Linked DNA regions of Homo sapiens. The protein of the gene in region 3 interacts with the protein of the main gene of each other region in a biochemical or structural test. Each region holds a gene or a part of one and is shown on either strand. Other genes may lie near its edges.

Evidence for each region.
Region 1: the proteins of CACYBP (region 3) and HSP90B1 form a complex in vitro, tested with the Homo sapiens proteins (one study listed by BioGRID).
Region 2: the proteins of CACYBP (region 3) and RNF41 form a complex in vitro, tested with the Homo sapiens proteins (one study listed by BioGRID).
Region 4: the proteins of CACYBP (region 3) and OTUD5 form a complex in vitro, tested with the Homo sapiens proteins (one study listed by BioGRID).

The regions. Positions count from the first base shown.
Region 1 is NC_000012.12:103,940,410-103,947,409, forward strand, and holds part of HSP90B1 (endoplasmin precursor), read left to right. Parts: intron 1-1,000; coding exon 1,001-1,138; intron 1,139-1,219; coding exon 1,220-1,297; intron 1,298-1,422; coding exon 1,423-1,488; intron 1,489-2,117; coding exon 2,118-2,387; intron 2,388-2,664; coding exon 2,665-2,910; intron 2,911-3,328; coding exon 3,329-3,465; intron 3,466-6,208; coding exon 6,209-6,287; intron 6,288-6,376; coding exon 6,377-6,532; intron 6,533-6,901; coding exon 6,902-7,000.
Region 2 is NC_000012.12:56,201,644-56,204,936, forward strand, and holds the end of RNF41 (E3 ubiquitin-protein ligase NRDP1), read right to left. Parts: 3' UTR 536-3,293; downstream 1-535. UniProt on the Homo sapiens protein: Acts as E3 ubiquitin-protein ligase and regulates the degradation of target proteins. Polyubiquitinates MYD88. Negatively regulates MYD88-dependent production of pro-inflammatory cytokines.
Region 3 is NC_000001.11:175,002,940-175,009,988, reverse strand, and holds part of CACYBP (calcyclin-binding protein), read right to left. Parts: intron 5,376-7,049; coding exon 5,156-5,375; intron 3,245-5,155; coding exon 3,148-3,244; intron 2,892-3,147; coding exon 2,792-2,891; intron 1,381-2,791; coding exon 1,283-1,380; intron 67-1,282; coding exon 1-66. UniProt on the Homo sapiens protein: May be involved in calcium-dependent ubiquitination and subsequent proteasomal degradation of target proteins. Probably serves as a molecular bridge in ubiquitin E3 complexes. Participates in the ubiquitin-mediated degradation of beta-catenin (CTNNB1).
Region 4 is NC_000023.11:48,954,607-48,961,895, reverse strand, and holds the start of OTUD5 (OTU domain-containing protein 5), read left to right. Parts: upstream 1-4,288; 5' UTR 4,289-4,325; coding exon 4,326-4,919; intron 4,920-7,196; exon of another isoform or gene 7,197-7,248; intron 7,249-7,289. UniProt on the Homo sapiens protein: Deubiquitinating enzyme that functions as a negative regulator of the innate immune system. Has peptidase activity towards 'Lys-48'- and 'Lys-63'-linked polyubiquitin chains. Can also cleave 'Lys-11'-linked ubiquitin chains (in vitro).

The DNA.
Region 1 (7,000 bases), on a different chromosome or scaffold from region 3:
TGTTTAAAGTTAATGTTTCCCCAGCAGCATTTAGTACAAGCAGTAGAATGCTCTAGTGGACTTAACCATAGCTAAATAAAACTTAATATTCTGTGTCTGTATTTGTTCTTTTCTCTATTCCATATCCTTTAAATTTCAACTCTTAAAACACTGTTGGTTCTGCCTTCACTTTTATTTCCATAAACTCTAAAGTCCTAGTGTCTATAAACTTACTTCATATAAAGCAGCTGTATTAGAAATATAATTAATGTGAGCCACACATGATTTGAAATTTTTTAGAAGCCATACAAAAAAAGGAACCATGAAATGTTAATAGTATAATTTATTTAACCCAGCATACCCCAAATAGTATTATTTCAACATAATCAATATAAAAACTAATAATGAGACATTTTATATCCTTTTTAAAATTTGTACTGTGCCTTCAAAATGTATTTTACACTTTAATAGCACATCTGAATTTGAACTAGCTACATTTCAGTGCTTAACAGCCATATACAGTAATAGATAATGCAGATCAAGAGAATTTCCAACTTTGTTTTACAGGTATTTACATACATCTTTGTAGCCACTCTTAGAGCTAAGTTCCATGGAAGAAACATGTTCTTGAGTACTTACTGTAGTTCAAGGGCACACTGAAGTGTTGTATGTAATTTTGTCATTTAGGCAGGGTGGTGGTTTTCCTATTCACTTCTCTCATACGTAAGAAGTATAAACTCATCCTTCCTTCTGAGAGTTTAGGAAATAATGTTATTGACAATCATCATCAAAACAACCATGTCTAGTGAATTAGAATTGCAATTCTAGATATTTCTTCACTCCACCCTTTTCTTTCTCTTCCCCCCACCCTTTTCTTTCTCTTCCCCACCTCCCGCCAGTAAAGGAAAATTTTTTGTTAGTTAATTGCTAAACTGAATATGTACCACATAGTACATTGCTTAGTTCTTGCACTGCTTTTCTCCTGTGTCGTTTGAATGACTAAGATACCAACTTTCCACAGGAAAGTGATGACCCCATGGCTTATATTCACTTTACTGCTGAAGGGGAAGTTACCTTCAAATCAATTTTATTTGTACCCACATCTGCTCCACGTGGTCTGTTTGACGAATATGGATCTAAAAAGAGCGATTACATTAAGGTGAGTTTTTAAGTAGTACATGCTGCGTTTAAAATTTGAAAGTTTAATTTCCAGAAAGTGACTTTTTTTTGGTCTCTTTAGCTCTATGTGCGCCGTGTATTCATCACAGACGACTTCCATGATATGATGCCTAAATACCTCAATTTTGTCAAGGGTGTGGTAAGTATCTGAAGTTTGGGAGAAGGGGTGATTGTTGTGGGGGTCTGGCAGTGTAGAGTGTTTGTTTGGCTTTGCTTTCTTCCAGTGGTTTTATTGCTCACTGAACTTTCTTTTGCCATCTGAAGGTGGACTCAGATGATCTCCCCTTGAATGTTTCCCGCGAGACTCTTCAGCAACATAAACTGCTTAAGGTAAGTGTCTCTGGGAAGAAACTCTCCACTTTGCTGTTTGATTGGGGTTCAGAGGACAGGCTCCATTTGTGGAGTAAAACCAGATTTTGGGTCTGGTCCATGATTCTTCAGATGAATTTCCTTTCTTTCTGGAGTTATCAGATCCTAAGAATCTGATTCTTTTTCTCCCAACATTTAATAATGAAGTTTCAAACATCTAGAAAAAAATTAAAGAATTGTACAGGTCCAGGATTAACATTTTGTCATCTAGACACATAGCCACCTTTTTATCAAGCCTTTCATTAAACCTTTCCCCTCCAATACTTCCATAATTAGAAGACTCTTTAGTTTTTGAATTTAAAAGTATTTGAAAGTAGCATATTTGTTCACTTCATTTAGATGCTAGAGAGAGAGTATCACTGAGTCCTAAGGTTAGAATATAAACATTAAGGCAATCTTGTGGCTATTTGCACGGACAGCTGAATTTCAGCCCAATCTGAATGAATTGGAGTGCTTCACCATTTCCTGCCCCTCAATAAATGGCAATAACGATATCGTCTTTGTGTTTTTCACACTCCTGCCTGGGTACCTTACATTCTCAAAAGTTGGAGATTAACTTCTCTAATCAGTTATTCTTTCATTGTGTTTAGGTGATTAGGAAGAAGCTTGTTCGTAAAACGCTGGACATGATCAAGAAGATTGCTGATGATAAATACAATGATACTTTTTGGAAAGAATTTGGTACCAACATCAAGCTTGGTGTGATTGAAGACCACTCGAATCGAACACGTCTTGCTAAACTTCTTAGGTTCCAGTCTTCTCATCATCCAACTGACATTACTAGCCTAGACCAGTATGTGGAAAGAATGAAGGAAAAACAAGACAAAATCTACTTCATGGCTGGGTCCAGCAGAAAAGAGGTGAGATGAACTCATAAGTGTTGTCAGCCATTCTGGAAGGTAGCTAGGGATTTATAGCCAACTCTTGAGGGGGAGAAAAGGAAAACTTAATTGTGTAACTGGAGTAGTTATAAGGCCTGGTCAGTCACTGACAGGAAGGTCATTTATATTCTCTGAACCTCTTAATTCTTCACCTGTAAAATGGAGTTTTTAATAATGTATAAACATAGCAGCTGCTAGGATAAACAAATACACCAGGGCCAGACTTGGAAAACTTTGTGACTTCTTAATTTTGTAGGCTGAATCTTCTCCATTTGTTGAGCGACTTCTGAAAAAGGGCTATGAAGTTATTTACCTCACAGAACCTGTGGATGAATACTGTATTCAGGCCCTTCCCGAATTTGATGGGAAGAGGTTCCAGAATGTTGCCAAGGAAGGAGTGAAGTTCGATGAAAGTGAGAAAACTAAGGAGAGTCGTGAAGCAGTTGAGAAAGAATTTGAGCCTCTGCTGAATTGGATGAAAGATAAAGCCCTTAAGGACAAGGTACTGTGGAAATTACAAATTGTGGAAATATTAGTATCAGCATTTAAGAGAAAGTTATTTTGTGAACAAATTAAGCTGCAGCTGGTTACTTTGTAACCATTAGAATGGTAAAAATTTAATTAATGTAATTAAATTATTGGGAGAAAGCTTAAAACTTTCGACAATACTGCTTTGTTAATAACTTGTTACAAATTAAATTTTATGTTTTTAAAAGGTGGTATTTAAACTTCTGACTAGAAAATTCAGATTATCAAGTAAGTGCCCCTACAAATTCTCCTAAACCTTAAGAAAAGCTATTTTTATGACCTGCTTCTGTGTTTATGATCTTAAGTGATAAAGTCTTAGACAGTTGAAAGACAATTGCTCAATGACCTTACCTGTTGATATTAATTTATATGACTTGATTTCTTTCCCTAAGATTGAAAAGGCTGTGGTGTCTCAGCGCCTGACAGAATCTCCGTGTGCTTTGGTGGCCAGCCAGTACGGATGGTCTGGCAACATGGAGAGAATCATGAAAGCACAAGCGTACCAAACGGGCAAGGACATCTCTACAAAGTAAGCATCCTCGGGAAAGTCCCTGCCAGGGCGTTGCCCCTTACCCAATCTTTGTTTTGGAGATAATACCAGCTTCAATACAAAGAGTAAAATTGCCTTAAATGTCTACCACTGTCTACTATAAGGTAGACAACAAGTTTACGAAGGGATTTCTCCTACATTTGATTGAGAAAGAAAAGGTCTTTGACTCATGATTTTCTGATTTTATTGTATTTGATATGTAAATGGGAATTTTCTTAATGTGTTATGCATAGTCTTTACTTTTGCATTGGATTATATGCTTAGCCTAATATCTGAATTTATTTTACATTTTTAAATGTAATAGCTGCACGAGGTTAATGACAACATTCCTCAAGTGAGTTAAGTCCATTTCAAATCACGTCCCCCACACCCCCAAGCATTAAATTATGGGTATCCAGATAGAATGTCTCATAAAGTAGACGGTACAGGACCTGTGAATTAACAGTATTTGAACTCAAGGGCCTATACCTGGAGGTATAGTGAGTCTTTGGTACTCTTTATTTTCAAGAAATATAGTATTTCAAGTTTATGTTTTAATGTCACAGCAATGATCTTGAAAATGACTTCTCCCCTACTTTTATTCTCTCTTCTTTCACCTGGAGTATGTTTCTGATATGCTATCTAGTCATCATCCTTTTTTCCCAAGGCCTAGCTTAAGGATTCTTTTTTTTTTTCCCCCGAGACAGAGTCTTGCTCTGTCACCCAGGCTGGAGTACAGTGGCGCAATCTCTGCTCACTGCAACCTCCGCCTCCTGGGTTCAAGTAATTCTCCTGTCTTAGCCTCCTGAGTAGCTGGGATTACAGGCACCTGTCAGCACACCCGCTAATTTTTGTATTTTTAGTAGAGACGGTGTTTCACCATGTTGGCCAGGCTGGTCTCGAACTCCTGACCTCATGATCCGCCCTCTGCGGCCTCCCAAAGTGCTGGGATTACAGGCGTGGGCCACTGCGCCTGGCCAGGATTATTATTCTTAAAGCCTTTTCTCACAAATGTAGTCTCCATTGTTGTCACAATTCTAAAATTCCATATATGTCTTTTAACTATAAATTTCATGCAGAGAATAGTGTTCTGTTTATCTGATATCCCATTGCAATAGTACAAGGGCCATTTAAAACATGTCCACCTATTAATTTCAGGAAATGATTAATAGGAAGTTACCTTGCATCCAACAAACATGAAGACTTACTATGTCCATGCACTGATGGTCACAGGTAGACATAACTCCTGTCTTTTCTAACATTTAGACTAGTGAAAATGACAAATCAAAGCCAGGCATGGTGACTCACTCCTGTTGTCACTCAGGAGGCTGATGCAGGAGTATCAGTTGATTCCAAGAGTTCGAGGCTGTAGTGTGCTGTAATGGCATTGCACTCTAGCTCTAGCCTGGGTAACATAGCCAGACTCCGTCTCTTTTTTATTTAAAAAAGAGGAAAAAAAGCAAGTCATAATCCGAGCCCTACATAGATAATGGGTACACCAGGATAGGGAAGGATGTGGTTCCTCCCTGTCCTCAGAGCTTTAAACTAGAGAAGAGAGAATAATCACAACCAACAGTAAAAAGCTAAGGATTTTGAAGGTATATTCAAAATGCATTTGGAACTGAGCTCAGATAAAGTTAATTTTTCTTGGAATCATTGGCGAAGGCATCGTGGAGAAGGTATTATTATTGGAGCACAATCCAGAGGCTACATAGATTTTTCTGAACTTGGGGAGGCAGAGCTACAATTACGGTAGTAAGAATAAACTAAGAGGGAACAAACAGGACATTAAATCAGTTCGTCTGTTCAGCAGTGCTCCAGGTACTTGGGACTCATCAGTAAATAAAATAGTTCCCTTCATTTCATTTTTCATCTAACCGTGTCCACTTGCTCCCCACCCCACCTCCCCGTTAAAAGGGAGCAATACAGGCTGGGCACATGGCTCACGTGTGTAATCTCAACACTTTGGGAGGCTGAGGTGAGAGGATCACTTGAGGCCAAGAGTTCAAGACTAGCCTGTGCAATATAGTGATACCCTGTCTCTATAAAAACTAAATAAGGAAACAGTGCAGTCATCCCTTTTTGTCCATGGGGTGTTGGTTCCAGAACATCCCATGGATACCAAAATCCACACATAGTCAAGTCCCTTAGGTAAAGTCGTGCCGTATTTGCATATAACCTATGCACATCTTCCCATGTACTTTAAATAATCTATAGATTACTTTTAATACCTAATGCAATTTAAGTGCTATGTAAATAGCTATTATACTGTATTGGGTTTTTTATTTTTTTCTTGTTTTGCCCTTTCTAATATTTTCAATCCGAGGTTGATTGACTCTGCAGATAAAGTAGACTGGAAAAGTACAGTCGTCCTTAGGTGTATGAGGGAGATTGGTTCTAGGACCCCTGCCAAAATCCACAAATATTCTAGTCCCCCAGTCTGCCCTGTGGAACCCGTGTATATGAAGAGTGGGAGCTCTGTGTGTGTGGATTCCACATCCCAAGAATACGGTATTTTCTATCTGAGTTTGGTTGCTGAACCTGCACATACGGAGGGCGGACTGTATTTATTGGAAAAAAAATAGCATATAAGTTCAAACCTGTGGTGTTCAAGTGTCAATAGTACATTTTGATTTTTTTTTTTTACCAAGAGTTGTTCTGTGTAATTATGAAAGAATAAGGGAAACGTATGAACCCTAAAATTGGATATGTTTTGTTAATGTTCATTTTTATCTCTTAACAGTTACTATGCGAGTCAGAAGAAAACATTTGAAATTAATCCCAGACACCCGCTGATCAGAGACATGCTTCGACGAATTAAGGTAGTATTAAAGCAGTCCTCTTGCTTGTCTTTTAATTTGAGTACTTTGTATCTTTTAATATTAATCTAGTGCATCTTCTTGCATTTCAGGAAGATGAAGATGATAAAACAGTTTTGGATCTTGCTGTGGTTTTGTTTGAAACAGCAACGCTTCGGTCAGGGTATCTTTTACCAGACACTAAAGCATATGGAGATAGAATAGAAAGAATGCTTCGCCTCAGTTTGAACATTGACCCTGATGCAAAGGTTTGTATCCCCAACCTTCCCGCAAAGGCTGGCTGGCTTTCTTTGTTTCTGTTCTTTCAGAATAGGCCTCTCATGATTGAGGGATGTAGCTTTGCGACATTTGCCTAATTTCTACCTTTTGAAAGAATTTTATTGAATGTTTGAATCCCTGTAGTGTCAGGCACTGCACTAGAAACTAAGTCCTCCTTTTACGTCCTCTTTCCTTTTTGCCTGCCTCCTTTTGTTAGCTTGGCTGTTCATTCTAGTTAAGAGGATTTAGTCTGTGGTTCTGAATAAACAGAAGTGACATTAATTATGATTTTATACATATAAATGAGCAAAGTGGAAATAAATCCAAGGCATTAATGGGCCCATAAATGTTGTGTTTAGGTGGAAGAAGAGCCCGAAGAAGAACCTGAAGAGACAGCAGAAGACACAACAGAAGACACAGAGCAAGACGAAGATGAAGAAATGGATGTGGGAACAGAT
Region 2 (3,293 bases), on a different chromosome or scaffold from region 3:
CTCTAGCCTAGGTGACAAGAGTGAGATCCTGTGTCAAAAAAAAAAAAAAGACTTTTCTTGGGACAATTAGGGTAATGTAAACATGGGTTTGTAGTAGATTATTCATTATACATTGTTAATTGTAAACACTTGTTATTTAGGTAATGTCAAAAATATTTTTATTTTTCCAATGTATATACTGAAGTAAAAAATTAAGACAATGAAGCCAGGTGCAGTGGCTCACACTTGTAATCCCAGCACTTTGGGAGGCCAAGGCAGGTGGATTCCTTGAGCTCAGGAGTTTGAGACCAGCCTCAGCAACATGGTGAAACCCCATCTCTACAAAAAATACAAAAAATTAGCCCGGTGTGGTGGCGCATGCCTGTGGTCCCAGCTACCTAAGAGGCTGAGGTAGGAGGATCACTTGAGCCTGGGAGGTGGAGGTTGCAGTGAGCCAAAATTACGTCATGCACTCCAGCCTCAGCTACAGAGCCAGACCCTATCTAAAAAAAAAAAAAAAAAAAAAAAAAAAATTAAGACAGTGTATCAAAGTCACTGAAAGAGATGAAACAAAAAAAATTTTACTAGTATTAAAACAGATTAAGACAATTCCAGGTGCAGTAGCCCCAGCTACTCCAGAAGCTGAAGTGGGAAGACCACTAGAGCCCAGGAGTTTGAGGCTACAGTGAGCTATATGATGGTGCCACTGCACTCCAGTCTGGGTGACAGTGTTCTTTCTACTCCCTCCTTCCCCCAGTTCTCCTGACCTTAAAAGTTTAGAACAGGTTGGCAAATTTTTTTCTGTAAAAGACCAAGTATTTTAGGCTTTGTTCCAGCTACTTAACCCTGCTGTTGTAATGTGAAAGCAGCCACAGACAATATATAAACAAGTGGGCATAACTGTATTCCAATAAAGTTTTTTACAAAAGCAGGCAGTGGGGTTGTAACCTGTAGTTTGCTGACCTCTGACCTATAACAAGTAACACTTCCTGAAAAGCCTTTCCTGATACCCATCAGAATCAGGAGCTTTATCGTCCTTGGCTCACATATTACTAGTAAATCCACTTAGCACATTTATGATCCCTTATTATATATTCATCTCCATTAGGGACTAAGTTCTTTGCAGGTAGGTGCCATTTTGCTACATAAGCCTCCTCATGTTCACTCTAGTGAGTATCTCACAGGGCAGACATTCAATGAATATTTGTTTCTAAAAATCGTATCTTCTGTAAAAGGACAATATGACACCATTCATAACATTCACAAGAATGAGCAGCAAGTTCTAAAAGTAATTTTAAAGGAGTTTAAGGGGGGAAAAGCACTGCTAATGTCACTAGGATACATACATTGCCTCTTATGCTCTATACTGTGACATGCTTATCAGTATTTTATAAACATACCTTGTGTGCATAGAAGCGCAGACTCAGCACAGAAATGCCTTTTTTTTTTTTTTCAAGCCACTAGAGTATCAAGAGTACTATTAGGTTTACATCAGGTGCATGATAAATGCTCAAATTTAAAACAAACTTCTGGGAGGAGGAAAAGATATCCCTTTTTCTTTTCTTTTCTTTTTTTTTTTTGAGACAGGCTCTTGCTCTGTCACCAGGCTGGAGTGCAGTGGCATGATCTCAGCTCACTGCAACCTCCACCTCCCAGGTTCAAGCGATTCTTGTGCCTTAGCCTTCCAAGGAGCTGGGATCATAGTGGCGTCCCACCATGTCTGGCTATCCTTTTTCTTATGACAGGGAAAGGTAGCAGCAAATACTTATGAAGACTGGTTTTTTTTTTTTTTTTTTTGAGACGGAGTCTTGCTCTGTTGCCCAGGCTGGAGTGCAGTGGCGTGATCTCAGCTCACTGCAAGCTCCGCCTCCCAGGTTCACACCATTCTCCTGCCTCAGCCTCCTGAGTAGCTGGGAGGACAGGCGCCTGTCCGGCTAATTTATTTATATTTTTAGTAGAGACAGGGTTTCACCATGTTAGCCAGGATGGTCTCGATCTCCTGACGTTGTGATCCACCCACCTTGGCCTCCCAAAGTGCTGGGATTACAGACGTGAGCCACCGTGCCCGGCCTATGAAGACTTTTTTTTTTTTTTTTTTTTTTAGACGGAGCCTTGCTCTGTCGCCCAGGCTGGAATGCAGTGGCCCAATCTCTGCTCACTGCAAGCTCTGCCTCCCGGGTTCACGCCATTCTCCTGCCTCAGCCTCCTAAGTAGCTGGGACTACAGGTGCCTGCCACCACGCCCGGCTAATTTTTTGTATTTTTAGTAGAGACGGGGTTTCACTGTGTTAGCCAGGATGGTCTCGAACTCCTGACCTTGTGATCCACCCACCTCGGCCTCCCAAAGTGCTGGGATTACAGGCGTGAGCCACCGCGCCCGGCTATGAAGACTATTTTTATAAGTAAATAATTATGAAACCTCTGCAAGTACATTTCCCTCCTCACATTTACGTTCTTAGCTAGGAAACACTGGGAGGTAGAGACTTCTCTGCCTGCAAAGGAATTCTAGATTCTAAAGCAAAGTTGCTTGTGGGACAAAGGAAAAAGATATATACATATCTTCTGTAGAAATTATCCCAAAAACTCAGGACCACTCAGGGAAGACATGGAATTTAGGATAAAGGCAGACCCTGGGAAGCACACAGTTCAGATCACTAGAGAGCTTTGGCTGCTACAGAACAGGAGATAGGAGGGAAGAATGCAGGAGGGTACATGGGAAAGCAGCTGTGAAGTGCACACTACTCCCAGACATCCTCCTGAAAGAGAAGTTAGCACTAAGATAAGGGTAGGTAACAAAGTAAGGAAGAAAGGGAATTAAGGTGAGAGAAAGGCAAAAGCAGAGGGGAAACCTTCTCAAGAAAGGGAGTAATGCTGAAGAATTTAGAGAGTTGAGTAAAAGGTTTATTATTAGTGCAGTCAACACCATGGAACAGCACATACAACACAACCAGCAACCTGCAGAGACACTAGTGCAAAGGGTAGGGAAGCCTTTCACTGAGCTTCCTGGCTCCATCTGAGGGTAAGGACAGGACAGTATGAGCCTTGGTTAAGGCAGGTAGGGGAAAGGGGAGTGGAAGAAATGTAGTAACCAGAGTAAGTATAGCAGCGTTTTCAAATTCCTGAGCACAATGTCCCAGAGCTGGAACCCTACTCCCCTCAAGCTTTCCACCCCAATCCCAGTGGAGCCATGATCCAACTACCCAGACCTGCAGCAAGCTAGCCTGGAATAAAATTCTGAGAGGAAGCCATTACATGGTGGGGAGGAGCCTTTCTATCTCCAACCACACTCCCACCTCCATATTAAAATAATCACAC
Region 3 (7,049 bases):
TAAATTTTCTTTAGAACATTCATCAATCCCTCACTAGGATCTGTTTCAGTGTCATAGGAGGGCTTCCTTTAAAAAGAAAACATATACAACAATGGGGAAACGAAAGCACCGGAAGATACTATCATTCAGGTTGTTAACACTGGCAGGAAGTAGAGGGATAAGAAGGAAGACAGAGTACCCAAAGATATTTACAATCAAAACGGCACGCACAAATTCATCTTAATGAAAACAACACACACGTATCAAGCATGCACACACTTGGTGCACGAAAGAGGTCATCAAAATAGTTAGGGGCTATTTTTAGGCACAGGGATTTCCCATGATTTTTTTTTTTTTTTTTTTTTTGAGACAGTCCTGCTCTGTTGCCCAGGCTGGAGTGCAGTGGCGCATCTCGGTTCACTGCAACCTCCGCCTCCCAGGTTCAAACAATTCTGTCTGCCTCAGCCTCCCGAGTAGCTGGGATTACAGGCACATGCCACCATGCCCGGCTAATTTTTGTATTTTTAGTAGAGACAGAGTTTCACCATGTTGGCCAGGCTGGTCTCAAACTCCTGACCTCAGGTGATCCGCCCGCCTCAGCCTCCCAAAGTGCTAGGATTACAGGCGTGAGCCACCCCACCTGGCCTCCTGTGATTTTTGACAGGTAAAATAAGAATTTGATTTTCTAACTTGTTTTCATTTTTTAAAAGCATGTTTCCTCATAATTTGAAAAAAAACACTTGAGGGAAAATCATAAACATTACACATGGATGTACCCTGAAGCTCATGTATTTTTTAATTAGAAAAACTCTCCTCTTAAGCCTGAGATACACAGATCTGGGCCTGGGTCTTGAATTAATTTAGTCAGTACCTTTAGAAGATGAACTGACCTAGAACGCAAGTATCATTGAATACACATTTTTAAAAGGTCATTATTAAGAAGGATAAAAATATTTTATCTTTTTCACTATAAACCAGTGACAATGAAAACTACGCATCAGAAGCATCTGAGAAATTTAAAACATACAGGGGTACCTAAGCCCCTCTCAAACTACCGAAACAGAGTATCTGGGAATGGGCACAGTTATTTGTATAGAAGCACAACTGCGCCTAGGGTTAAGAACCACACTAAAGAGCCAACCCTTAACTACAAAGACCTTAAAAAGCAACTTGCTGGACGTGCCCTCTTCAGGTAGTTTGACAGTTGAAAGCAGAAATACATTATCCATAAAGACAAACTATTAAAAATCCATGATCTCAAACAATACACTAAAATTCTTTAAAAAAATGGAAGTAGACTCACTCTTTTTCTTTGCACTCCTTTTCAACCTGGGTCAGGTAATCCCACCTTGTGTTTTCCACTTTCTTTCTACACAATATAAGAACTGTATCAGTCTTGACCTGGAAGAAAAGCAGGAAAACAAATACAGCTTAGAAGACATGGAGATAAGCATGAATATTTATAAAACAATTATCTATTCAATTGATCAAGTCCCTAGTATGTATAGACTTATTTTGGGTGCCAGTAATACTTGTATGAATAGGCCAAAATCTGAACATTCATGGTGTGAAAAGACCATAAATAAGTAAAACTTGAATACCCTGATATCCTGGAAAGTGCTATCAAGACAAAGCGGGTGTTAATGGGGGGTGGGGGCAGGAACTTCATTAGGAAGGCCTCTCTGAGGCAAATCTGAGCCGAAGCCTAAGGTCAGGAGAAGGCAGTTGGCAGAGCATGCAGAATGGCTCCAAGATGGGATCATCTTGGTGTGTTTGAGGAGCAGGAGGAGTGGCTGGATTTTAGTGACTGAAAAAGACAGTAATATAATAAGAGGGGTCGGGGATAGGCAAGAAACCAAGTCGTATAAGGCAGTATGGGGCAAGGTGAGGCATTTGAAAGTGAGAAAGAAGGGCAATGTACAGGTCTTTTAAACAATGATCAATACTAGGGATCTTTTGGTACTCTACCTATGGGACTAGCGGATGCAGAAGGGTGCAGTAAGACAGCGAATCCAACTATATTTGAGTATCACCTGTAAGCTGTTAAGTAATTATGTATTATAAAAACAGATGGCAGAATGTCATGTCTATATACCTAACGCATTAAACTTCATTTATTCACATTAGGCAGAAAACAGGGACTATCTGATTTAGTAAAAATTACAAAGAGTAGTTTTTAAAAGACAGTTTCCTTATTTTTATAGCTGCTTCTAACTCCAAGGAGGCTAAGTGCTTAAGACCTCCTTTTATGTATACGAGTATTATGCACAATGCTAACACTAGCATTAATTTAAGCACTTTACATAATGGTATTGCACTTCAGTGTATCATTTCAACTTTGTGAAATAAATTATTACTATCGCATAAATGCAGAAACTGAGGCACAGAGTGATTAAGCTGCCAAAGGTCACAAACAATAAGCTGTAAACCTGGCATAAAACTCAAGTCTCACTCTTAACTACCTTCAAACGTTTACTTCCTCCCTGATTTTAATGGAATATTCTTACAATAGCCTATTCTACAAAAGGAGTTGGCAAATGTTCTCTGTCGAGGGCCGCATAGTAAATATTTTAGGTTTCATTTAGGGCCATATGGTCTGCTGTAGCCACTTAACTCTGCCATTGTAGCACAAAAGCATCCACAAACAACACATGAACAAATAAGCCTGGCTATGTCCCAATAAAACATTCACAAAACAGGCGGTGGTCCCTGTTACAGAGGACAAATTCATTCCAGTTCATCTCAGTTCTAAATCAGCCAGGTTCAATTTGGTAAGGTTTCACAATATTACAATCAAAAAAAGCACACTCACTTTTTTTGAACTGCCTTCCACAGAGATGGGTTTCAAGAGATTGTTCACAATCATGGAGTAACTCTTCCCATTTAGATTCTTTACCAAAAGATCAAATGACCTGCAACACAATGGTGAATACATCATCTTTCTAGTTCTATGAAAGGTACCCTTACTCCATAGTTCTTGTGGGAAAAAAGCTGCTGGCTTTATTTCAGGGTGTGCATTTGGCCAGTTAACGCTCACCTCTTCAAAGTAGTTGTAAAGGATAATTAATTCTAAATTTAAGAATTTTAAAAACTGCAAAGAAGAGAGTCTCAAGATAAGGCAATGTTGACTGTTAATTCACTGTCTTTCCCATTATAATGAGAACTCACCTCTCTGTGAAATGCACCTGCACATTCTCAGTGGGAACTTGATGAACTCCAGTTAAGGTAATGTAGATTTTCACAAACTTATCTGACTGATCCCATCCTGGCAACGACAACAAAAGATGGGACGTAAGTAAGCCTCTGAAACTATCTTTAGAACAGCAAATGCACATGGCTCATAAGTCAGGAAAGTAAAATTATGAAAATCCAGTCATATAAACATGAAAAAATTTGAAATATAAGAAATTTTCTAGGTTGAGAAATGGAGCCTCAAAGCAGTTAAGTACTCTACCCAAAGCTAGGCATCTAACAAGTGGTAGAATTCAGATTCAAATCCAGGTTTCTGAATACAAAACCTATGCTCTTTTTATCCCTCAGAATAAAAATATGATCACTAAATACATTCTTTAAGATTAGTTCATTTACAGCTTTTATGGAAACAATTTTGTCCGACATCTAAATATTGGTAGTTCTCCACTAAGCTGGATGGCTAAGTATCAATACTAATTCCATAACCATTTCTACTTCTGTAAGTAGTCAAACAAATGGAATCCTAGCTCTCTTAATTCCTTTCCAGGGCAAAGTAGAATGTAAAAGACTCCAATTCTTCATCCAAATCTGACAAACCTACTGGTATCTGTTAAATGCCATTTCAGTATGTATTATCAAACTACCAGCACGTCTCTGACCTAGAAGAACTCTGTCAACATAAAAGACATATATATAAATACTTCACAAAATACCATCACATTTGTAGAAAATAAAAAACTTCACAAAAAAGCATCTTCTGTTTATCAAGAATATATACATACATATCCCTGACTATTGCTCACTTAGTCCTATAGAATAGAAACATGCCCCATCCTCCATGACGTTTTTCACATTGCATGCCTATATCAAACATCTCATGTACCCCATAAATATATACACCTACTATGTACCCTCGAAAATTAAAAAGAAACAGTGTTGATGAAAAAATGCCCTAGTGGGGTCCAGAGAACTTCATTTATTAATAGTTTCTTCCCATTCAGTCAGTCCATCCTCCGGATTGACAAGTTTCTCCCTCAACACAAATCTATGTTCCTGGTTAAAATACCATAATCCTCAACACCTTCAGACCAGTTTCCTATACTCAACTGAGTACACGGTGCAATTTCCTATATTACTATATAGTACATCTCTTAAGCACGACATACACATGCTTTTCACTATTAACAATATTCAAAATAGATCATGCCTTCCAACTCTCTATTCACATTCTCTGCTCATGCTGTTCCCCTCCTTTTTGACTTGCTGAATGTACGACTCACCCTTCACACTCAAATCTCTCTAATTCTCCCTGTTCCTCACCTCCAGAATTATTTCTTCAGCTATGTTACCTATTATGTGCTAGACATTATTAGCACAAAGAAAAACAAGACTGTCCTTGCTCCAATGAGAGCTCATCATTCATATTCAAGTTGCGCTGCCGCCAAAACAAAAAACTGTATACACCATTGAAGGAAAACAGTATTACTACATTGTTATACTACGAGTTATACGTCAATGTCCCAACCACAACATGAGCAAGGACTGGGTCTTAGTCACTGTTGTGTATCCGTAAGTCAAAGCACAATAGTGATACACATTAGGTGCTCAAAAATATTTCCTGAATTTAACTGGATTCCTCTCCTCAGTTAATTGTGGTGGTTGGCAGAGTGAAACATAAAACATGATTAAAAACCACCACCACCACCACCACCACCAAAGCTGTGTCTTATACTGAACAATTTCAGAATAAGTTCCTTCCTTGTTGTTACATTTTGTAGTGAATCACCTTACTCTTGTTAACAGCTTCTAGAACGCATCCTTTCCTATTTATATCTTAAAAAAGTTTTATTAAATAAAAACTGATGGGTCTTGCTCCAAACCACCAAAAACACAGACTCAAAACTCATTGGGGATGAATTTGTTAGACCACTATGAGGAATAGGTTGCTCGGAGGCAGAACTGGCTATAGGGAAGCAAGTCATACCATAATTACTGATTTTCACCGTATAGCCCGTTGTAATGGGAGCAACCACAGCAGCTGGTTTTTCATTATCAAGAAGTTCTGCTTTCTTCTGTGATTTCTGTTGCATCTTGTTCTTGATTTCTGTCTCAATCTTGGATTTTTCAGCTGTAAGGGCATCACGTACTCTTTTCCTAGTAGCCTTTTCCAGCAACACCTTTACCTCTTCTAGATCTTTCTGTAGCTGTGTTAAGACAAAAAATAAGTTAGCTATGATAAATAAGGAAATGGCTTGATATTGTGCGTATCACTCATTTCAACTTACTGAAATAAGCACTAAGAATTAAGAAGTTCATCTAAATTTTCTAGGATTGAGTTGCAACTTCAATTCTTCCATCTGGCTTATTAACTGTAATTAACTCAAGCTTCCTTTTTTTCAAAAGGAAAACTTTGAACAATCTTGAACAAACAATAAATAGGTCTTCAAACCTAAATTTTCCAGTTTATGTTTTAAAATATTTACAAGAAACGTCTGCGACCTAAAAAGTAAAACAAAGAACTTTTTTTTGACAAAGGATTCATAGATTTCCTTGTAACATCTAATCCGAGTGTCATTAGATGTTAGACACTTTTAAAATATTTAAGAGATGAGAGAACATGCAGTGACCATGGTAAAATGCTTTTATAGCAAACTTAACTGAGGTAATGAATGCTCCACTTTCTGTCACTGATTGGTCTTCATTATCTTCCCACCTCAAATACCTCACATAAAAAAAGTCTTAATTTTTAAGACAAAAGATAAAAAAAAAAATTTCTGCTTTTGAGGAAAAGTCTTGCTCTGAAGCTGGGTCAGTCTTACACTCAGAAGTGTAGGAGTTGGTTGCACAGAAGGTGACAAAAGACCGAAAATGCAACATACTCTTGGAAATTATCTTTTGAAAAAGCCACCACGTTCTCATTTTCTTCTCTTGCCAATCCATCATCTATTAAAGTCTACTACTTTCTACTTTCTAGAGATAGAGGCAACATTTTATGAAATTCAAGAGTTAAAGACAATGTTAGAAAATTATTGAGCCTAAGTTTTTTTTCCCCCAATTACCCTCTGACATACTGCAAATACACAAGATCTTTCCAAACAGCTGTTTCACTTTTCTTACAATAACTTTACACTCTGGCTTGACACTACCAACTTGACCAAAAAAATCTTGTGTCACAGCTTGATATCAAAAGCTCAATTTAAAAAAGTCTTTTAGTGCTTTATAACTCAGAATATCAGACGCACAACAGAGTTTGAAAGCCTGTTTCTTAATAGTCTTATAAAATGCAATAACAGAACTAATTCTTTTCTTTTACTACAAGTCTTTTGTTATCTCATTTAACTCAGATGCCCTAGTTTTGCCTATCTATAACAGATGACATGGTATAAAAAGTTCAACTCTGGCCAGGTGCAGTGGCTCACACCTGTAATCCCAGTACTTTGGGAGGCCAAAGCGGGTGGATCACTTGAGGTTAGGGGTTCGAGACCAACATGACCAACACGGCGAAAGCCCGTCTCTACTTAAAATTCAAAAATTTGCCGGGTGTGGTGGCACGTGCCTGTAATCCCAGCTACTCGGGAAGCTGAGGCAGAAGAATCGCTTGAACCCGGGAGGCAAAGGTTGCAGTGACCCGAGATCGCGCCATTGCACTCCAGCCCGGGCAACAAGAGCAAAACTCGGTCTCCCAAAAAAAAAAAAAAATCAACTCTGCCCAACCCTCTTGTCCACACTCTCGACCCTTCCAAGAACAGCTCATATTACTATGACAAAAAATCTTGCAAACTCATCTTTTGAGCATAGAACCAAAATGTTTCAGTTCAAAGTAATATTTTTATTGTAATGGTTTCAAAAAAACGCTGATTCTACAACTCCTAATTCAT
Region 4 (7,289 bases), on a different chromosome or scaffold from region 3:
AGCAAACTCTAGCAATAGCAGCTGCTGCCGTGTCATTATGCAAAGCCTCTGACCAGTTTGCTGCAGCATTTACATCTGCCCTAATCAGAGGGGCCACCTCTAACTCCTCCTCCTCCTCTCTTCTCCTCTGGTTTGCGTCCTTCCTGGGTTGGGCTGGAGTCTGGACTGGCTGAGATAAGAGCCTGGCAACCAGCAAGAGCTGGGCTGTATTTGGAGATCATGGGCTGATTCCATGTTCTTGGGCAACAGTCCAGAAGCATCAGGGGCTCCGGCCTGGGATGTTTCTGAACTTTGGGAGTTATAGGAGACAGGAGGAACTTCTCCTCCTCCTCCTCCCCTACAATTCCTTTTCACATATTCCTTTCTTCTCCCTCTTGGGTGACCTTCCAAAACTCTGCTCTCAGGCTGAAATCTGGCATCATCTCAGGTTCCCTGTCCCCAGCACTGTCCCCATGGAGCTGGTGGCTGACAAAGATGTAGTTTCCATCAGTCAATAAAACCTGAGAGGAGAGATGAGGACTGAGAGTATCTCCTGGCTCTGTGGGTTTGGGGGCTGGGTTGGGCTTGGGGGTTGAAAACACTCTGATTTCAATCCCTTTTGGCTAGGAGAAGGGCTGGTATGGGTCAAGGTATGGGAGATGGATGGTTGGTGATGTATTCTGGAAGATGGGGATCCAGGAGAAATGAAAGAGTGTGGTTTGAGGAGTTCATCTACAGCCAGTGAGACAGGCCAGGGGGTCCTGAGACATTCCTCCTTGGATATCATCTGCGCCAGCTTCCTGATTCACAGATCGGGAAACTGAGACCCAGAGAAACACATAGTTAGTTAGAGGAGGCTTAAACCCAGGCTTCCTGACAGCAAACAACCCTGAATTTAACCCTAATAAAAGCATCACTTTGTTTGGTGAATTTCCCTTCCTTGTGGACGCCCCCTACATTCTCTCTTCTGGGCTACTGGCTACACTAGGCTAGTGTGTGGCTGAGTTCTATAGAGCACTGAGCAGACAGACCATGGATTCAGGTTGATCTGGGTTCCAATCCCTGGGTGAGAGAATCACTTACCTTCTCTTGCCTCAGGTTGCTAGTCTGTGAAATAGGGATAATTCATTTAGTCACCAAATATTTATTAACTTCCATCATGTGCCAGCCCTAGGGATACAAAGGTGGGCAAAGTAGACATTGTCTCTGATGTATAGTTGAGCATGGAAGGCAGACAAGTAATTACAACATGGTGTGGCAGAACTAAGATCCATGTGTTATAGAGGCATGCAGATGGCAGGAGAACTTAACCTGGCCAACACACAGGGAATGAGTTGGAGTTAGCCAGGCAGCAAATGAAAGGATGCAATGTTCTGGGCAGAGGGAACAGCATGTGCAATGACCTGGAGGTTGGAGAGTGAGCTCAGGCCTTTGGGGAACTGAAAGTAGTTCAGTCCAGCTGGGGAGGAGAGTGTGAGGCTGTGAGGAGAGGAAGGATGGAGAGGTAGGCTAGATAATAAAAAGCTTTGAAGCTATGACGCGAATTTTAAACTTCATCCTAAAGATAGTGGGGACCTCTAAAGACTTAAACAGAAAACTCATGATGAAGTTTGTGTTTCAGAATGATCATTCTGGCTGTGGAGAGTGGATATAGAGAAACAGTCCTGGAAGGAAGAAAAGTAGGGTGGAGGCTTTTATAATAGTCCAGGTGGTAGGGGACAGTGGCTTGGACCAGAGTAGTGGCAGTAGAATTGGAGAGTCTAGAGATTTGGGAGGCAGAATTGGCAGGACTTGGGATTGACAGGCATGTGGGAGTTGAGGAAGAGGGAGCAGTCAAAGTTGACTCCCAGTTTCTGGCTTGGACGACGGCTGGATGGGAGTGCTATTCCCTGGTAAAGGGAACATCAGAGCTGTCAGCACTCAGTGCTAGGTACATAGTAAGTACTTGGTGAAGGGTAGCCATGATTGCTATCATGAGTTCAGTTTTAGATGTGTAGTGAGTGAAATATATGGGGCTGGAGTGAGATGATCATGAGAAGATTCAATGTGATAATGTGCATAGGCATTTGGCACAGAGCCCTGAACACAACAGGCCCGGTAAACGTGAAAGTCCCCTCCTATTAAGTCTCATGAGCAGAAAACACTACTTAGAGCCCATTTATTACTTACACCTTTCAGGGAAGAATTTCAACTAGGGTTAGTATCTCAAGGGAGGCAAGGCTATACTCAAAACAGCTTTCCCATGGTCTCTTTCAGTCAACCTGTTGTATGGTTTGTCTCCTAAGACTGGAAGTGAACTCCAAATACCTTCTTGGTTCATCAGCTCATCTGAACCCCATAACCATTCCCTGAGGTAGTCTGGGCAGGTATTATCATTCCTGTTTTACACATGGGTAATCTCAAAAGTGACACAATGACTTGCTCAAGGTCATACAGTTGGTAATGGTCCATCTGTGCCTGGAACTGAGGTCTTTCTGGCTCCAAAGCCTGGGATCCTTCCACTGCACCACCATGCAGACTACTTTATTGAACACTTCCTATGTGCTGGGCACAGCACCAGGCCCTTCACAAGCATTAATCTCTGATCCTCGGATTAGAATTATTGCCAATTTATAGAATAGAAATTAAGGATGGGTGCTCACTTCGCACCACATATACTAAAATTAGAACGATACAGAGATTAGCATGGCACTATGCGAAAGGATGACACGCAAATACGTGAAGCGTTCTATAAAAAAGTAAACAACAACAACAAAAATTGAGGACGGGGTGGGTTTTAAATGACTGACAAAGATCACTCAGACAGGAAGGGCAGAGCTAGGATTAGCGTGTAGCTCTCCAGCTACTCAATAGCAGGGATTCTGCCAACCCCATTTTGAGACGCTGACTGGTGACAGAGCTTTCATAAACCTCGATCGACCCAAGCAAACTCAGTTTTAGAAAAAGGCTGGGCTTGGCCAGGCGCGGTGACTAACGCCTGTAATCCCAGCACTCTGGGAAGCCGAGGCGGGAGGATCGCTTGAGCCCGGGAGCTGGAGATCAGCCTGGGCAACATAGTGAGACTTTGTCCCTACAAAAAAGTGAAAAAAAAATTAGCCGGTCGTAGTGGTGCGCGCCTGTGGTCCCAGCTATTCGGGAGGCTGAGGCGGGAGGATCGCTTGAACCTGGGAGTTGGAGTTTGCAGTGAGCTATGATCGCGCCACTGCATTCCAACCTGGGCGACAGAGTGAGACCCCTGTCTCAATTAGGAAAAAAAAAAAAAAAAAAAAAAAAAAAGGCTGGGCCGCGCCTGCGCACTAGCCATAGGGGCGGGGAGGTCAACGCGAGGCCGAGAGTGCTGTGGTGCCAGAGAAGGCGTGTCTGTTTCCCAAACAACCACTGTCCCCACGGCGCCTGTCTGTCCCAAGGTTGGTCGGTATGCCGCGAGTGACGGCGTCTCTTAACCAATCACCGCAGAACTCAGGCTGTTGCCGGGGCGAAGCGGTGTCCGCCTCCCCCGGAAGGGTATTTGTAGGTGGGTGGGACCGGAAGTGACGCTACAGGGGCCAGCTATGCTCCCGGGAGTGTTGATGTTTTCCAGTCATTCCGGCTGACAGCGTTCAAGTTGGAATCCTGGAGGGGAGGTGTTTTTCCTGTCGTACGTGGGACAGGCCACGCTGTCCGTCCGCAGTACCGACGCCTGCAGGTCAGAGCTTCGGGGAGAAAAGTGAAGAGCAAGACGGAACTGACGGGGAGAAAGGCTGGGAACCAGGGTGTCGACTTTGACTGAAATTTGAGACGGAGGGCACCGGAGGGCGAGCACTCGCCTGTGATTGGCCCGTGGGCGTCGTCGAGGTCCCACGCAGCTGCTCAATTGGTTGGTGTTGCAATTGTTGTGGCGGCGGCGGCGGCGATTTTGCCCACGTACTTCCGAGTAAGGGGCGGGGCTGTGCCCTGGCGCGCGTGCGCAGCGCCCCGGGGCCCCACCCGGTAGTGCAAGAACCTGCGAGGGGGCGGAGCGAAGAGGTGCTTGTTTTGGTTCTGTTTCCTTTGAAGCAGAAGGCCGGAACAAGCGTAGCAATAAACTTGCTGGACTTGGAGAGAAGGCTAAGACAAACTCGCCGCACTGCCTTCATCTTGGACTTTACATCCGGGTTCTCCTCTCGGCGTGACCCGCGCGCCGCCACCGCCGCCGCCGCCGCCGCCGCCTCCTCCGCCGCCGAGGGTTCTCGAACCGGTGCCGCGATCCCTTTATCCGGGTCTCGCCGTTCCCGTCGTGCCTCGCGCACTACACTAGCCCCCTCATCCGGGTTCTCTCCCGGCGTGCCCCGCGCCGGGTTTGTTGGGGGGTACTCGGCAGTGCAGCCATGACTATACTCCCCAAAAAGAAGCCGCCGCCTCCCGACGCCGACCCCGCCAACGAGCCGCCGCCGCCCGGGCCGATGCCCCCGGCGCCGCGGCGCGGCGGAGGTGTGGGCGTGGGCGGCGGCGGCACGGGCGTGGGCGGCGGCGATCGCGACCGTGACTCCGGCGTCGTGGGGGCCCGTCCGCGAGCTTCGCCACCGCCTCAAGGCCCGCTACCAGGACCGCCGGGCGCTCTTCATCGCTGGGCGCTGGCCGTGCCGCCTGGTGCAGTGGCGGGTCCCCGGCCACAACAGGCTTCTCCACCTCCTTGCGGGGGCCCAGGTGGTCCCGGCGGCGGTCCCGGCGACGCGCTGGGCGCAGCGGCGGCGGGTGTGGGTGCCGCGGGCGTGGTGGTGGGTGTGGGTGGTGCCGTAGGCGTGGGCGGCTGCTGCTCCGGGCCTGGGCACAGCAAGCGGCGACGTCAAGCTCCCGGGGTTGGCGCGGTTGGCGGGGGCAGTCCCGAGCGTGAGGAGGTCGGCGCAGGCTACAACAGTGAGGACGAGTATGAGGCGGCTGCAGCACGCATCGAGGCTATGGACCCTGCCACTGTCGAGCAGGTAAGAGCTGTGGGGTGAGGGGTGAGCGGCCACGGCAGATGGGACCCCCAGACTGTGAAGGGACTCAAGGAAGGCTGTTTGAGATCGCCCCAAGGGATCTAGGCGTTTTCACTGGGCCTGACAGTCTTCTCTGGCGGTAGGGATGTGAGACACCTTCTTTCCTCCCCTCCAGGATTTTGGGGCTAGAGGCCTACGGTAAGGTGTCAGACTTAAAGATCCGAGGTCTCTTTTAAGGTCTATAGTCGTCATTCCAGTCCCTGGGACCTCATCATATAGGGCCAATAGGTGGGAATTCTCCAAGAGATACAGGTAGGATCGCGCCCCTCTTGAGTAGGAGTCTCAGGTCTCCCAAGAGACTTAGGTATGTGTTCAGTGGCTTAAGAGCTCTTTTCCTCTGGGATAGAAGTTTGAGATTCCCCTTCCAGGAAAGTCAAATAAGGTGGAGACCTCGGAGATCGGGGCTGAACATCCCCAAGGAGCCTAAGCCCTTTCAAGAGTCTGAGACACTCTGCATATAGGACAATCCTCTCCCGCTTCGCTGGGTAACACTGCACAGGACCACTGAATAGCCAGACCTGAGACCTCAAGGGTCCTAAGTCTGTCTTCAGGGGCCTGAGAGTCCTGCTTCTAGAATCAAGGTCCTGACACACACACACACACACACGCCCCCTTTAAGGATAGGGATCTTCTAAGCTTTTTCCAGGGATGTAAGACTTTTCACAGGGAGATATGATTCCCTTGCCCTTGGGGACAGGGACCAAAACCAACACCCAATGACCAGCAGCTTTACTTATCTCCTTTCTGAGTGACAAAGGTCTGCATTTCCTATCAGTGGCCTGAGACCTACCTCTTGGGAGACAAGGGCCTGAACCGCTTCAGGATCTTAAGCTTCTTGTAAGAAGAGATGGGCCCTCAGCACCCCCACCAGGGGCCTGAACCTTTCTTCAGGAAAATGAGACTCACAGCGTTGGATCCTAGGGCCTAAGATCCACCTGCTTATGGACTGAGGTTTTTAGAGACCGAGTCTGAGGCCTCTTCAGGGGCCTGGTGTCCTGCTGCAAAGGTCTCAGACAAGGTGAAGTCTTTAGGAGATCCTTCTTCTCAAGGCTGGTGTCTGAGTGGTTTTGGGGATCTGAGACTCCCCACCCCACGAGCATATGTGACCCTTTTACCCCAATTATAAGGAACTGAAACATACCTTGGGGATACAGTATCCCATTTTCCCCTCTGTAACAGGGGTTTGAGGCCCTCCCACCTTGGGCCTAAGCTTTTTGTCAGGGACATACGACCCATGCCTTGGGAACTTGAGCCTGAGACGACTACTCAGGGGACATGGGCAACATGGGATCCCAGAGATGATGTCTGGGGCCTCCCTACAGATCTTTGCCTACTTTTAAGGGCCTGAGACCCACTCTGCCAAGGACACTTGAGCTTTCCTTCAGGGACAGGAGACTCATACATACCTTGGTGACTTGTGTGTCTAGAGGTAAGGTCTGAGCTTCCTCCTCAAGGAACTTAAGATGTACACCTGAGAAACAGGAGGACTCCTCCCCCCAGACCTGAGCCCTGAGACTCTTCCCTTGGGGCATGGATAAAGGATCCCTGTGGAACAGGGTCCTGAGTCTACCTCCAAGGGTTTGAATCATAACTCAGGTGTGTGAAGGCCTGTTCCCCACCTTAGGACCTGATTTCTGAACCTGCCCTGAGGGTACTGTCACCTCACCTCAGACAACTTACATACACCCTAGTCTTAGGGGTCATTTAGGGACATAAGACTTCCTGCCTCGGGGACTTGGGCCTTAGACTCCCAACTCCTTTTGGGGACATGAATAGGGTAGGATTCTGAGGAAAAGAGTCTGGGCCCAAGCTTTCTCTCTGGGACAAGATACCGTTTGCCTTAGGGACTGGGGGCCTGGCTCCCACTTGGGCATGAGGCTCTCCTCCTACCACACCAGGCAATCCTTTCTGTCCAGGGAGAGGAACGTGAGGTCATCCTCTCCCATTGGACAGAAGGACCTGGATGCTCTTCAGGGTCATATGAACCCCTTATCCAGAGCTCCCTCGTGGCCAGGGCCAAGAAGGTCCTCCTACTTTCTATGAGAAGATTGTCAGGTCCTGGGGACATGGAGTCTGGAGCCTCCCTTCTGAAACCAAGAGCGATTCCGAGTCTCTCCCTGACCTAGCTATGCTTGCTTCTCACCTCTAGGTCATATAATAAGTTTTGAACTGCTTTTGACAAGCTTTTTTCTTCCCAGGGACAGGAAAGGGGTTTGGGACATCGCCACTCTGGGGAAATTCTCCTCCCACATTCCTTTTCCCCTTGGCTCAGGTAAATCTTTCTGTACTTCACAGGGGCCCCAAGCCTTGTCT